Linked DNA regions of Homo sapiens. The protein of the gene in region 1 purifies or fractionates together with the protein of each later gene. This does not show direct contact. Each region holds a gene or a part of one and is shown on either strand. Other genes may lie near its edges. The genes, in order: SMOX, FLNC, HERC1 and CCT6B.

The links.
Region 2: the proteins of SMOX (region 1) and FLNC purify together in Homo sapiens (affinity purification with mass spectrometry; one large-scale study listed by BioGRID and IntAct). This does not show direct contact.
Region 3: the proteins of SMOX (region 1) and HERC1 purify together in Homo sapiens (affinity purification with mass spectrometry; 2 studies listed by BioGRID and IntAct, with this or other methods). This does not show direct contact.
Region 4: the proteins of SMOX (region 1) and CCT6B purify together in Homo sapiens (affinity purification with mass spectrometry; 2 studies listed by BioGRID and IntAct, with this or other methods). This does not show direct contact.

The regions. Positions count from the first base shown.
Region 1 is NC_000020.11:4,179,807-4,183,377, forward strand, and holds part of SMOX (spermine oxidase), read left to right. Parts: intron 1-1,996; coding exon 1,997-2,170; intron 2,171-2,282; coding exon 2,283-3,042; intron 3,043-3,571. UniProt on the Homo sapiens protein: Flavoenzyme which catalyzes the oxidation of spermine to spermidine. Can also use N(1)-acetylspermine and spermidine as substrates, with different affinity depending on the isoform (isozyme) and on the experimental conditions.
Region 2 is NC_000007.14:128,854,406-128,857,159, forward strand, and holds part of FLNC (filamin-C), read left to right. Parts: intron 1-7; coding exon 8-277; intron 278-369; coding exon 370-507; intron 508-793; coding exon 794-909; intron 910-2,112; coding exon 2,113-2,245; intron 2,246-2,339; coding exon 2,340-2,516; intron 2,517-2,712; coding exon 2,713-2,754.
Region 3 is NC_000015.10:63,638,442-63,642,012, reverse strand, and holds part of HERC1 (probable E3 ubiquitin-protein ligase HERC1), read left to right. Parts: intron 1-369; coding exon 370-543; intron 544-1,567; coding exon 1,568-1,861; intron 1,862-3,236; coding exon 3,237-3,302; intron 3,303-3,476; coding exon 3,477-3,571. UniProt on the Homo sapiens protein: Involved in membrane trafficking via some guanine nucleotide exchange factor (GEF) activity and its ability to bind clathrin. Acts as a GEF for Arf and Rab, by exchanging bound GDP for free GTP.
Region 4 is NC_000017.11:34,927,292-34,930,462, forward strand, and holds the end of CCT6B (T-complex protein 1 subunit zeta-2), read right to left. Parts: intron 1,744-3,171; coding exon 1,671-1,743; intron 827-1,670; coding exon 757-826; 3' UTR 570-756; downstream 1-569. UniProt on the Homo sapiens protein: Component of the chaperonin-containing T-complex (TRiC), a molecular chaperone complex that assists the folding of proteins upon ATP hydrolysis.

The DNA.
Region 1 (3,571 bases):
ACCAATGATAAGTGCTTAATGAGAATTGGGGTGAGTATTATTAGCTGTCACAGACCTGTCCGATTTTCCTTGGGTCACATTGGGAAGGTGTCGAATAACCCAGGAGAGGAGACTGTGCCATGTGATACACCCATGTTCGGTGAAGGCTGCCCTCGTTGGTGGCTGATGCAAAGAGTCATGTCGATGGACTAAATTCATTACTCCTCAGCTGGGCATTTTGGCCTCTAGTTAACATAAGCTAAGGACTGGCTACCAGGTTGCTTATCGCCCAAGGGAAAAACCCAGGGAGGAGGCAAATTGAAAGCCTGACCCTTGGCAGTGGTCCTGGGTGAAGAATTTGCTGAGGACTCCAGCTAAGGCTCACCACTCAGCATCTCCTGATTGCAGGGAGGCAAGATGAAACAATTTCCCTCACTTTCTTCTTTATAATTTAGTCTCCAGAGATAAGTTTAATTCATGTCTGTGTCTCAGGTGGAGGCCTTCCCCTTGAGTGAGATGGTGGTGGTGGCGGGTGGTGGACATCACTGTGCTTTGCCATCTTCCTTCACCCTGTGGCCCCAGGGCCTAGCCCAGGGCTGGGGGACAGGGCAGACACCATTCCCAGACATGTGTGCTGACCACACTCACTTTAGGAAGGGAAACAAACCATTCATCAGCTCAGCCACAGGGGCTCGACCAAGGAGCCTCCATTAGCTGGTGTCCTGGGAATGACAGCTGTGGGCATGTGATCCTGCCGCCTTCTTGCTCACGGCCCTCCAGCGATGCCAGGGCCTTGGATCAAGTCCAGAGTCCTTGGAATAACTCTCAGTCCTTTATGCCCTGGACCCTGCCTGCCCTTCCAAAGTCGGCTCTCAGATCCTCTCTCCTTGCTGCCCCCTCCAGCAAAACCAAACCCCTTCAGGATTCCTGACTGCTTCTCCATCTTTGAGGTTGCTGTTCCCTCTGCCTGAAATGCTTTTCTTCTCCCTTTCCTCTCCACCCTGGCTGTCTCTCAGCTGCCCAGGGTTGTCTGCGTTGACCTCACAGCCCCGGGTTCTTTCCTATCACGGCAGCCCAATCGTGGACTGTCTCCCCAGCTGGAGTGAGGGGAGGGGCAGGGACTGTTTCGCCCACATTACAAGCTGTGTCCTGCACAGAGCCCGGTAAATGTTGAGTAAATGTTGCTTCTGGGGATCCCTGGACTGGCTTACTTCCTTCAGGGAGCTCTGCCCAGTGCTTAGTGGGGACTGTATATGAGACAGGCACGAGGGTCGGGCGGGCAGTCAGACCCCTTTTCAAGTGACTGATCGTCGTTATCTGTTGATGAGGTGTGGGCTGGAGTTCTTGCTGAAACGTGCCCGTGAAATGCATCTCCCTTCCTTGGCACACTGGGGCCTCCTGAGACCCTGGCTTTTGTGTTCCTGTCTTCCCCACTGCGTCTCAGCTTCCTTACTCGTGGCTGAGGCCTGAAGCAAAGGGGGTGCTTTGTACGGAGCTGCACAGGCCCAGGGAGGTGTCTCCAGTCGTCAGGGGCCCTTCTGCTGGCCAGGCCACAGCTCCAGACTGCCCTCTTGGGAGCGGGCAAAGCAGACACACTTGGGCAGGGGTGGCAGGGAAAGTGCACGTATCGTTCTTGGAACAGGTAAATGTGTGCAAATGCCCATCCTCCAGTGGGAGGTGGAGCCCATGGAGGCCCATGCAGAGTCCATGAGGGGTGGCTTCTTTCCCACAGACTGTATGGGCACCAAATGTTTCACATTGTCCTAAGTGAGGGCCCAGCAAGAAAACCTCCGGGGCTTATCCCACCTCCCCGACAGGCCGGAGGCGAGGAGGTGGCTGCCCGGGGCCTTGGCTTTTGGTGCAGCATTGAGTGCAACATCGGATCCCTAAGGGACAGAGACCAGGGGCTCAGTGCATCCAGGGGACACCTGGGAACTGGTGGGTTTGGGTTGGGGGCCTTCTGTTTGAGATGGAGGTGTGATGAGGTGTTTTCAGTCTCATGGGGTCTCTCTGGCAGGTCTATAACTTGACCCAGGAGTTCTTCCGGCACGATAAACCAGTCAATGCTGAAAGTCAAAATAGCGTGGGGGTGTTCACCCGAGAGGAGGTGCGTAACCGCATCAGGAATGACCCTGACGACCCAGAGGCTACCAAGCGCCTGAAGCTCGCCATGATCCAGCAGTACCTGAAGGTATCTTGAGGAAGACGGATTCTGGGGGCGTCTGGGTCTGAGGAGGGCTACGCTGCTCCTACCCCTGCCCAACCCCGGCGGTCACCTGGCTTCTCCTTGGGTCTTCCCGCAGGTGGAGAGCTGTGAGAGCAGCTCACACAGCATGGACGAGGTGTCCCTGAGCGCCTTCGGGGAGTGGACCGAGATCCCCGGCGCTCACCACATCATCCCCTCGGGCTTCATGCGGGTTGTGGAGCTGCTGGCGGAGGGCATCCCTGCCCACGTCATCCAGCTAGGGAAACCTGTCCGCTGCATTCACTGGGACCAGGCCTCAGCCCGCCCCAGAGGCCCTGAGATTGAGCCCCGGGGTGAGGGCGACCACAATCACGACACTGGGGAGGGTGGCCAGGGTGGAGAGGAGCCCCGGGGGGGCAGGTGGGATGAGGATGAGCAGTGGTCGGTGGTGGTGGAGTGCGAGGACTGTGAGCTGATCCCGGCGGACCATGTGATTGTGACCGTGTCGCTAGGTGTGCTAAAGAGGCAGTACACCAGTTTCTTCCGGCCAGGCCTGCCCACAGAGAAGGTGGCTGCCATCCACCGCCTGGGCATTGGCACCACCGACAAGATCTTTCTGGAATTCGAGGAGCCCTTCTGGGGCCCTGAGTGCAACAGCCTACAGTTTGTGTGGGAGGACGAAGCAGAGAGCCACACCCTCACCTACCCACCTGAGCTCTGGTACCGCAAGATCTGCGGCTTTGATGTCCTCTACCCGCCTGAGCGCTACGGCCATGTGCTGAGCGGCTGGATCTGCGGGGAGGAGGCCCTCGTCATGGAGAAGTGTGATGACGAGGCAGTGGCCGAGATCTGCACGGAGATGCTGCGTCAGTTCACAGGTGCGCCACGTGCCCCACGACCCGCTTCCCCCACCCTGCTTCTTCCTCACCTGCCCTCCTCTGGTGGACCCATGGCAGCTCTCTCCTCCCCAGACCGTGAAGCTCGGATGCTGTGCCCCACGGGAGAGCCACTGCAGGGTGCCACATTCAGCCAAAGGCTCTTCAGTTGCTGACAGTTTAGAACTTGACACACTCAGAATTATGGGCGCTGTGTCTCTTCCCCCTTTCTAAAGGCTGATGGTAAAACACTCAGAGATCACCGCCCATTGTGCTCTGTTGCTAAGAGCTGGATTTGCCTTTTACTCTCTGAGTCTTTCAGCTCAACATTTTTCACCCACTATTCCAGGAGGACCTCACGAGAACCCCCGATATTAGGCGGGGAAACATGATTATGTGTCATGTGTTTTCAGATAGATAGGAAAAGTAAGGTGGAGCGTTTTGCCGGGGGTCACAGGAGGCGCTGAGTGGGTACACAGCTCGAGCCCCAGCCTCCCTCCTTCCTCTTCTATCCTCCGTGCCTACCCCTGGC
Region 2 (2,754 bases), on another chromosome or scaffold:
CCTGCAGGTGAGGCCAGCTCTCAGGACATGACTGCACAGGTGACCAGCCCATCGGGCAAGGTGGAAGCCGCAGAGATCGTCGAGGGCGAGGACAGCGCCTACAGCGTGCGCTTTGTGCCCCAGGAAATGGGGCCCCATACGGTCGCTGTCAAGTACCGTGGCCAGCACGTGCCCGGCAGCCCCTTTCAGTTCACTGTGGGGCCGCTGGGTGAAGGTGGTGCCCACAAGGTGCGGGCCGGAGGCACAGGGCTGGAGCGAGGTGTGGCCGGCGTGCCAGGTAAGGGGCAGGTGGCCAGGAGTGGGGATGAAGTCAGGGCAGCCAGTGTGAGGGGCGATGATGCTGAAGTCCACTACCTTGCCTGTCCCCAGCCGAGTTCAGCATCTGGACCCGGGAGGCTGGCGCTGGGGGCCTGTCCATTGCTGTGGAGGGTCCTAGCAAAGCGGAGATTGCATTTGAGGATCGCAAAGATGGCTCCTGCGGCGTCTCCTATGTCGTCCAGGAACCAGGTGGGCGTCCACACTGGCAGTGGGGCTGGGCCTGCCTGACCTTCCAGACTGGGTTTCTGCCCACTGGCCAGGCAGGAGATGCTTGGGGCCACAGAACTCCCCTCCCCGGAGCCCCCTGCTCTTCCTCTGCCCCGTCTCCCTCTACCCCACACCCTCAGAAACATGTGTCTGCCTCCAGATCTGAGCGCTGACCACAGAGCCTTTCCTGGGATAAGGCCAGGGTGGGGAGGCTCCCGCCCTGCCAACCTCCATCCCGGAACCTGTGCTGACTGGTCTCTCTCCCCAGGTGACTATGAGGTCTCCATCAAGTTCAATGATGAGCACATCCCAGACAGCCCCTTTGTGGTGCCTGTGGCCTCCCTCTCGGATGACGCTCGCCGTCTCACTGTCACCAGCCTCCAGGTTTGTGCCCAGGGTGGGGGTGGAGGGTTTCTGCTATCTGAGAGATGGGCAGGAGTTGAGGACAGCAGGTCCATGGGGCCAGGGATTTAGCAGTGACCTTGGAAGGGCCAGTTAGGAGTCCCTTCTCATAAGGCACGAGGCAGGGCCCTTGGGGACGGTGGGCTCCCACCCTGGGGGCTTGCCCGTGCACTCAGGCATGCCACGCCTCGTTCTGCCTTTCTCAGGGTGTGTCTGCCTGTCCTACTGCCACCTGCCATTTCTTGTTACAGTTTGTTCCACCTTCTGTTGTAAGAATGCTAGATGACAACATTTATAAGAATGAGAGCATAAAATCTATACAAACTAAGAGTAAACCAGTTTGCACAGAGGGTGTGAGAGGCTCCTCTAAAGGGAATGCCTATGGGCTGCAGAGCCTGGGCTGCATCCTCTTCAGGCCGCTGGGGGCCTGGCTTGCTTTCTCTTGCTGCTGACTTCTAGAGATGTGGTGTGTTCCTTTCATTCTGTCACAGCGGACATGTGCAAGGAAGGCTTTCAGCAAGTCACACTGAAACATGCAAACCAGGGGGCCAGGTGTCCAGGGGACACATTGTAAAGGAGCTTCTGCATAAGGCGCACAGAATGGGCTTCACCCCACCTCCTTCTCCCACGCGCCTCCTGGCTGCCCCTCAGGGTGGTCACATTGGCCCATCCAGAGTCCTTGTGCATCTCCTCCTCCCACTCCTGAACTGGGCTCCCCGATGCAGGCTCCAATCCCTCCCCCAGAGCCCTTCTGTGCTTCTTCTGGTCCTCCCTGTTGGTCCACCTTCTCCAGGAAGCTCTCCCAGGCCAGGCCAGTGAAACTCAGCTTCCTACCTCAGAGCTCTCTGGCACCCCCAGCCCACACAGCCCATCAGGCACTTGCCCTCCGCCCTCAGCCTGCTTCACACAGAGTGGGGCCCTTCCTTCCTCAGCCAGGACAGGGCACATCGTCTGTCATCTCCCACACACCAAGCACAGCTAGGATAGCAGGTGCACACATAGGGTTGCATACCGGACCCTGGCTCCTCCTGCTCCCAGGCTGGGCTGGCAGGCAGGGGCCAGGCTGGGCATGGGGTGGCAGCAGCCTTTGGGCTGGGCTTACAGTGAGCACCGTGTGGGGCTTCAGAGAAGACTGCTCCAGCCCCGGCCTCCCAGGAGTCTGAGCATCCTCCGTGGCCTTTGCAGGAGACGGGGCTCAAGGTGAACCAGCCAGCGTCCTTTGCCGTGCAGCTGAACGGTGCCCGGGGCGTGATTGATGCCCGGGTGCACACACCCTCGGGGGCTGTGGAGGAGTGCTACGTCTCTGAGCTGGACAGTGGTGAGCTGGCCCTGCCCCTGCCAACTCCCTTCCGGGCTGGGGCCTTCTGGGGAGGGGAAGGATGGAGGCTAAGCCACCAACCCTTTATCCACAGACAAGCACACCATCCGCTTCATCCCCCACGAGAATGGCGTCCACTCCATCGATGTCAAGTTCAACGGTGCCCACATCCCTGGAAGTCCCTTCAAGATCCGCGTTGGGGAGCAGAGCCAGGCTGGGGACCCAGGCTTGGTGTCAGCCTACGGTCCTGGGCTCGAGGGAGGCACTACCGGTGAGTGCCTGGAGCTGGGGAACAGGGTGACTTCTGGGGGTGCTTGGCCACTAGTCTGGTGCTGCTTTGCTCCAGAGGTAGGGGCCCTGCTTCCTAAGCCAGGAGTCCCCACAGAGGCTGTCCAGGGAGCTGGGGCCCAGTCCCTCTTGGGCCACAAGCCCTTCCTGCCCTCAGCCTTGCTACCTCTGGCCCCCAGGTGTGTCATCAGAGTTCATCGTGAACACCCTGAATGCCGGCT
Region 3 (3,571 bases), on another chromosome or scaffold:
GAGTTAAAGCAGTGCTACCTCTTTTGCAGCTATCCTTGTAGTCATGTCAGACATGACTTTTGAAATATAGTAGATGCCTTATTCTGCAGGTTCTGAAGAAATAGTTAATTATTGACATTTTTTCCTTAAAAAGTACCAGCTAATCAGAGGTAGTTCACAAATTTTATTATTTCTCATTATTTTTTACTTAGACAAAATTTAGGATATTTTGAAGTTCCATAGGCATTAAAAGCATAGCCTTTTTGGATATAAAATATCCAAAAAGCAAAGATGTCCCAGTTACTAGAAGGAATTTCGCAGATTAAATGGTGATAGCATTATTTTTTATTTAAACAAATTTATTATGTGGCATGATTTATTTTCAACCAGGATGTTTTGGTCGTGAATTGTACAGCAGAATGGGCAGCTGCCAATCATGTTTTGGCAACCTGTAGGACAGCATTGAAACAGCAGGGTGTTCTGGGATTGAACATGGCTCCCTGCATGAGAGCATTTTTGGAGCGGCTCCCCATGATGCTTCAGGAGCAGTATGCCTATGAAAAGGTAACTCATTACACTCACTCCTAGAGATACACAGATACCTGGTGCTTTGGAATGTGATTATAGCCTTGAACTTATCCCTTAAAAGCATGAGGTCTGAGGATAATAAGTGGGGCTATTTGGGCAGAATCAAATGAAGGTAAGTCATGCCTAAAAGAGTTGTTCAGCAACCCTAAGCCTATTCTTGCTTTATTTTCACCAGAGTAAAATAAAGAAACAAACACCAAGTTTGTATTACTGCTTTTCAGATTATTTATTCACTCCAAAGCTTCTTAAAATACCTATGCAGCAGAATATCTTCCCTTTTCTGACCCACACATATATCTATTTTTATATGGCTTGGCCATTCCAAAGTTGAGGGATAGGGATGGATGCGGGTATCAGACTGAATATCGTCTCCACTTATTAGATAAATCTTTGTGGAAAATTTAGTGGAAGAGCTATGTTGAATTGAGTAGGGTCATTAAATACTGGAATGAGGAATTGCAGCGTTTGAACTTGTCCAGACAGTGATCCTAAAGTAGCCTGTCTTCCAGCTTTTTGCTTTTCCTTTGATGGCTACCAGGATTCTCTTATAAAGGAGGAAAGTGAGAAGAGCAGATCTCTGTGGTTAAATAGTTACCTGCTTTTTTTTCCAATCAAGAAAAACCATGATGAAAATGTACTATATGCAGTGTGATAGCTTAGATTGGATCCTGGAGCAGAAAAGGAGTATTAATGGGAAAACTGAGGAAAACCAAATAAAGTTCTGTGGTTTAGTTAGTATTGTACCAATGTTAGTTTGTTAGTTTTGATAAATGTGCCAGGGTTGTATAAGATGTTAACATTGGATAAAGTTGGGCGAAGGGTATACAGAAATCCTCGGTACTATCTGTACAACTCACTCTAAATCTAAAATTATTTCCTAGCAAAAAGCTTAAACAGTAAACTTGAAAAATATGATTCCAGACTTTCAGACTACGGTAGGTTAATTTAGAATATTTGGCACAAACTCTTTGACATATTATATCCTTGTATTTTGTTTTAGCCTCATGTGGTTTGTGGTGACCAACTTGTTCATAGCCCCTATATGCAATGCTTGGCTTCCCTTGCTGTGGGACTTCATCTGGATCAGCTGTTGTGTAACCCTCCAGTGCCACCACACCACCAGAACTGTCTCCCTGACCCTGCATCCTGGAATCCAAATGAATGGGCCTGGTTAGAATGTTTCTCAACCACTATAAAAGCTGCCGAAGCCCTGACCAATGGAGCCCAGTTTCCAGAATCTTTTACCGTTCCAGATCTAGAACCTGTTCCAGAGGATGAACTTGTATTTCTAATGGTAAATGTACTGTGAGCTGCTATTATTTGCAGCTGAGATTTTATCATGGGTATTGGGCATGTAGCAGACCCCTAATAAGTCTTTGCTGGTATGCATGGCTAGAAGGATACCCTTAAGAGAAATGGAAAATATTTTTCTTTCAGATAGTCACTTTCAATCTGATGGCAGGCCTCCATAGTGACAGGAATTGATAATGTAAGCACTGTTGAACTCTTGTAAACCTGCCACCTCTCAATGACATAGTCCCATATTTTCTCATTTTCTTTTGTCCATAGGTACTTTGTTAGTGCTTTAGTTGTATATATCTTAGCATCTTTTCCTGGTCATCTTGTGGGTTATATGCCACATATAGATTCTAATTTATTTGGCATTTCAATCATGTCTTTAATTAGCATCAAATAAAATATAGAAGAGCATTCTAATTGTCATTTCATTCTGTTTGTATTTGAGAGTGTCTACTCTAGAAACTGTGACATAGATAAAATACCTGTTTAGACTACAGGACAGCACATGATCTAACAACCTCTTTGTATACTTAAGATTTATGTATACAAACATTTGGATAAACATTGATACAATATGAAACAGACAAATATAAATTAAGTAAAATTATGTAACTGTAGCTATGCATCACTTAATGATGGGGATATGTTCTGAGAAATGCATTGTTAGGCAATCTTGACGCTGGGAATATCATAGAGTGTATAGTACTTACACAAACCTAGATGATACAGCCTACTTGCAACAAGACTATACGGTATAGTCTGATTACTCCTAGGCTACAAACCTGTACAGAATATGACTGTATTCAATGCTCTAGGCATTTGTAACAGTGATAAGTATTTGTGTATGTAAACATAGAAGATATAATAAAAATAAGGTTTTATAATCTTAAGAGACCATCTTCACACATGCAGTTTGTTGTTGACTGAAATGTCACGTGGCACAAAAGTATACAATATTTTAATCAGAAAATGTCCTTCTAAGCCCATTTGGCCCAACTCTGTAATTTTGTAGATGAGGAAGCTGAAGCCCAGAAAGATGAAGTAATTTGCCCACAGCTACACAAAGAGTTTACAGGGGTGTGGGGTCCTCCACATGACCTTGTACCTGTGGGTGTTCAGAAAACACATGGCTAGCTTTGAATCACCAATGCCATAGTGATAGTGATAGTGAAAGTGTTTATAATAAAGGGAAATACTGACAGTGCATAAAATCAAGTTTGACATAATTATAAAACTGCTCTTAATTTATCATAATATTACCATATTCTTTTTTGGAAATAAGACTTAATGATTAGAAGAGGACTTTGTGGTTAAGAGCAGGTGCATCTTGCCTAAGCAGAATTGATCATTATGTACCCCCTGTTTTTCAGGATAACAGTAAATGGATTAACGGCATGGATGAACAAATTATGTCTTGGGCAACTTCCAGACCTGAGGTCAGTAAAGATGAAGATAACTGTATGATGGTTCTCAGTCAATGTTTTGATTCTAAATGCTTGTGTGTTTGTGCCCTGGTGTCTCCCATACAGGCTGGCACACACTTGGTACGTAGTACATGGCTGTTTGAGTGAATGGATGACTCTAATTTTGAGATGATTGTGGTTTTCTAGGACTGGCACCTGGGAGGTAAATGTGATGTCTACTTATGGGGTGCTGGTAGGCATGGACAGCTGGCAGAAGCTGGAAGAAATGTAATGGTACCTGC
Region 4 (3,171 bases), on another chromosome or scaffold:
AGAACTCTAATAAAAATAAAAAGCATAATAGATTAATTCTAGAGTTTCAAACAAGAAAGATATTGCTATAATATCTATACTGAACAGTTGTATTATAAGCCAAAAATAATTATTTCCCACCATTGGTGTCAATAATTCTCTTTCCAGATGAGACCTGTTCTATCTCACCATCTAGACAGAGAGCTACCAGAGCTAGCACAGTGGCATAAATTGTTGATCATACATACAAAAACAGCCAGATAAAATATAATAAATGATATACAAAATAAATTGAGTCAGATATTATAAACAATGCAACCCAAAGCTACACGCCATATTTATAAGAGGAAAGAGTGGCAGCAAAAAGTCACTGAAAGAATTTTGAGAGAAAATGAAACATTCTGTCCTACTATATTTATACCCTCTGATAAATTGGAAATTTACTTGGGTGTACTAAAACCTCTATTTTGTTAATTAAAACTTGTCAAAAGGTCTAAGTATCATAAAGATCCTATGCTATAAAAACTGCAATAGCATATAACAAAGAGTGGGGAGTTAGGACTCTTGGGGAAATATTTAAATATTATTCCTTTACTGTAAAAGTATTTATTGTGTTCTTTATACCTTGATGAAATATTTTTGAGACTATTAAGACCCAAAAGACATAAACTGCATTTATTGTGTAGAAATTCAGAATGGCTCAGGCTACACAATAGTAGTCAGATGTAAAGTGTACTAAATTTCATCTTCTAGAAGGGTTGATTTTGAATTCAATCATCATTTGAGAGAAGACATCCCAGCTCGCATAATTTCATCAACCAGGAGAATGTTGGTGGCAATCACTGTGCTAAGGAAAAAGATGAGAGGGTGAGTAAAGCCTACTAACCCACTCTTAGCTTTTTTCCCCAGCAATCTTTACCTATGTAGGGTACTTTGTTCTTTAATGATGTTAGTATGATGTTTTATGAGACAAGGCTATTATAAATACAAATACAAATGTCACCTTTTTTTTTTTTCCCAAGATGGAGTTTCACTCTTGTTGCCCAGGCTGAAGTGCAATGGCAAGACCTCAGCTTACTGCAACTTCTGCCTCCCAGGTTCAAGCAATTCTCCCGCCTCAGCCTCCCGAGTAGCTGGGATAACAGGCACCCACCAACACGCCTGGCTAATTTTTGTATTTTTAGTAGAGACAGGGTTTCACCATGTTTGCCAGGCTGGTCTCGAACTCCTGACCTTAGGTGATTCACCCGCCTCGGCCTCCCAAAGTGCTGGGATTACGGGTGTGAGCCACCGCACTGGCCCAAATGTCACCCTTTGTATTATAATTTAAACTCCTTTGCTGATAAAGTGCATTCCTGATTTATATTTCAGCAAAATTGAGCTTATTTTTACAATATCATTTGATTTTCTCCATCATGCATGTGCTATTATTTCAGTAAATTTCCCCTTTTCTTTCCCCCTCAAATAGTAAGGTTAATTTTTCTTAGAACTTAACACTGCTAGATCTAAAATATAAAAGGGACTATGGACTATAAAATGACAGAAGCTAGTTCTAATAACTGAATACCACACCTTTCATACACTTGACAATTTTTCCACTGTACAGGGACAAAAATAATAGAAAAAATTTCATCTTAATATTATCAATTATAACTCTACAGGTCTTTCACTTTATGTTCATATGAACTTACCAAGAGTGAAGAAGTTGTTTTTTTACACAATAATTATCCCAAACTCCTGCATCTGCTGCTACCATTGGCTCACCTGAAAAGTAAAAACAATTTTCATACCAAAATCTTAGTATTTGCTATTAATATTAATTGATATCTTCTAAAAATATTTAATACATTACCAAAACTACTTTTGTCAAGGTCATCAATGACCTCCATATTGTTAAATCCAATGGTTGATTCTCAGACCTCATCTACCAGTATTTAACACAGTTGATCACATTCTGCCGCCTACTCTATGTTATCTTCCAGGATACCACACTCTTCTGGTTTTCTTTCTTTTGCATTAGTGGCTCCTTTTCTGATTACTTTGCTGCTTCTTCCTCTTCCTCCCTGACCTCTTAACGTTGGAGTACCCAAAAGTTCAGTCCCAGCCTCTTTTCTCTCTACCCTTAATCCCTAGGTGATCTCATCCAGACTTTTAGATTTAAACCATACACATCTGATGACTCTCAAGGTTTTTTGGGTGTTTTTGTTTTTTGTTTTCTTTCTTTTTTTTTTTTTTTTTGGTGTTTTTTGTTTTTGTTTTTGAGACAGAGATCTTGCTCTGTCACTCAGGCTGGAGTGCAGTGGTGCCATCTCGGCTCCCTGCAACCTCCACCTCCTGGGTTCAAGCAATTCTCCTGACTCAGCCTCCCAAGTAGCTGGGATTATAGGGGCCTGCCACCATCCCCGGCTAATTTTTGCATTTTTAGTAGAGATGGGGTTTCACCATGTTGGCCAGGCTGGTCTTGAACCCTTGACCTTTAGTGATTCACCTACCTTGGCCTCCCAGAGTGCTGGGATTACAGGCGTGAGCCACTGCGCCTGGCCTGACTCTCAGGTTTTAATCTCCAACCCAGACCTCTTCCTTGAACTCCAGACCCATATATCCAACTTTTTTAATTAAAAGATTACAGATGCTTCAACTTTGACTCTGCCAAAACTGAATGCTGATGTCCTCTCACCCACAACCTGCTCCAGCCAGTATTCTCCACCACAGTTGATTGCAACTCCAACCTTCTACTTGTTCAGTTGACTTCTCTACAAAGTGGAGAGTGGCCAGAGTGATTCTCTTAAACATAATTAGGCCACATGCCTGGCCAACATGGTGAAACCCTGTCTCTACTAAAAATACAAAAATTAGCCGGGCGTGGCAGCAGACACCTATATTCCCAGCTACTCCGGAGGCTGAGGCAGGAGAATTGCTTGAACCTGGGAGGCAGAGGTTGCAGTGAGCCAAGATCGTGCCACTGCACTCCACAGCATGGGTGATAGAACGAGACTGTCTCATAAATTAATTAATTAGGCCATGTCACACCTCTGCTCAAAATTGCTCCCTGCTCCTCTAAAGTAAAAGCCAAAGTCCTGAGACTGGTCCAAATGCCCCTGCATGATCTGACCTTCTGTCACCTCTCTCACCTCCTTCCTCAGAAACATCAGACACTGGCTTTTCCACTGGCTGTTCTCTTTCCCTAGAACA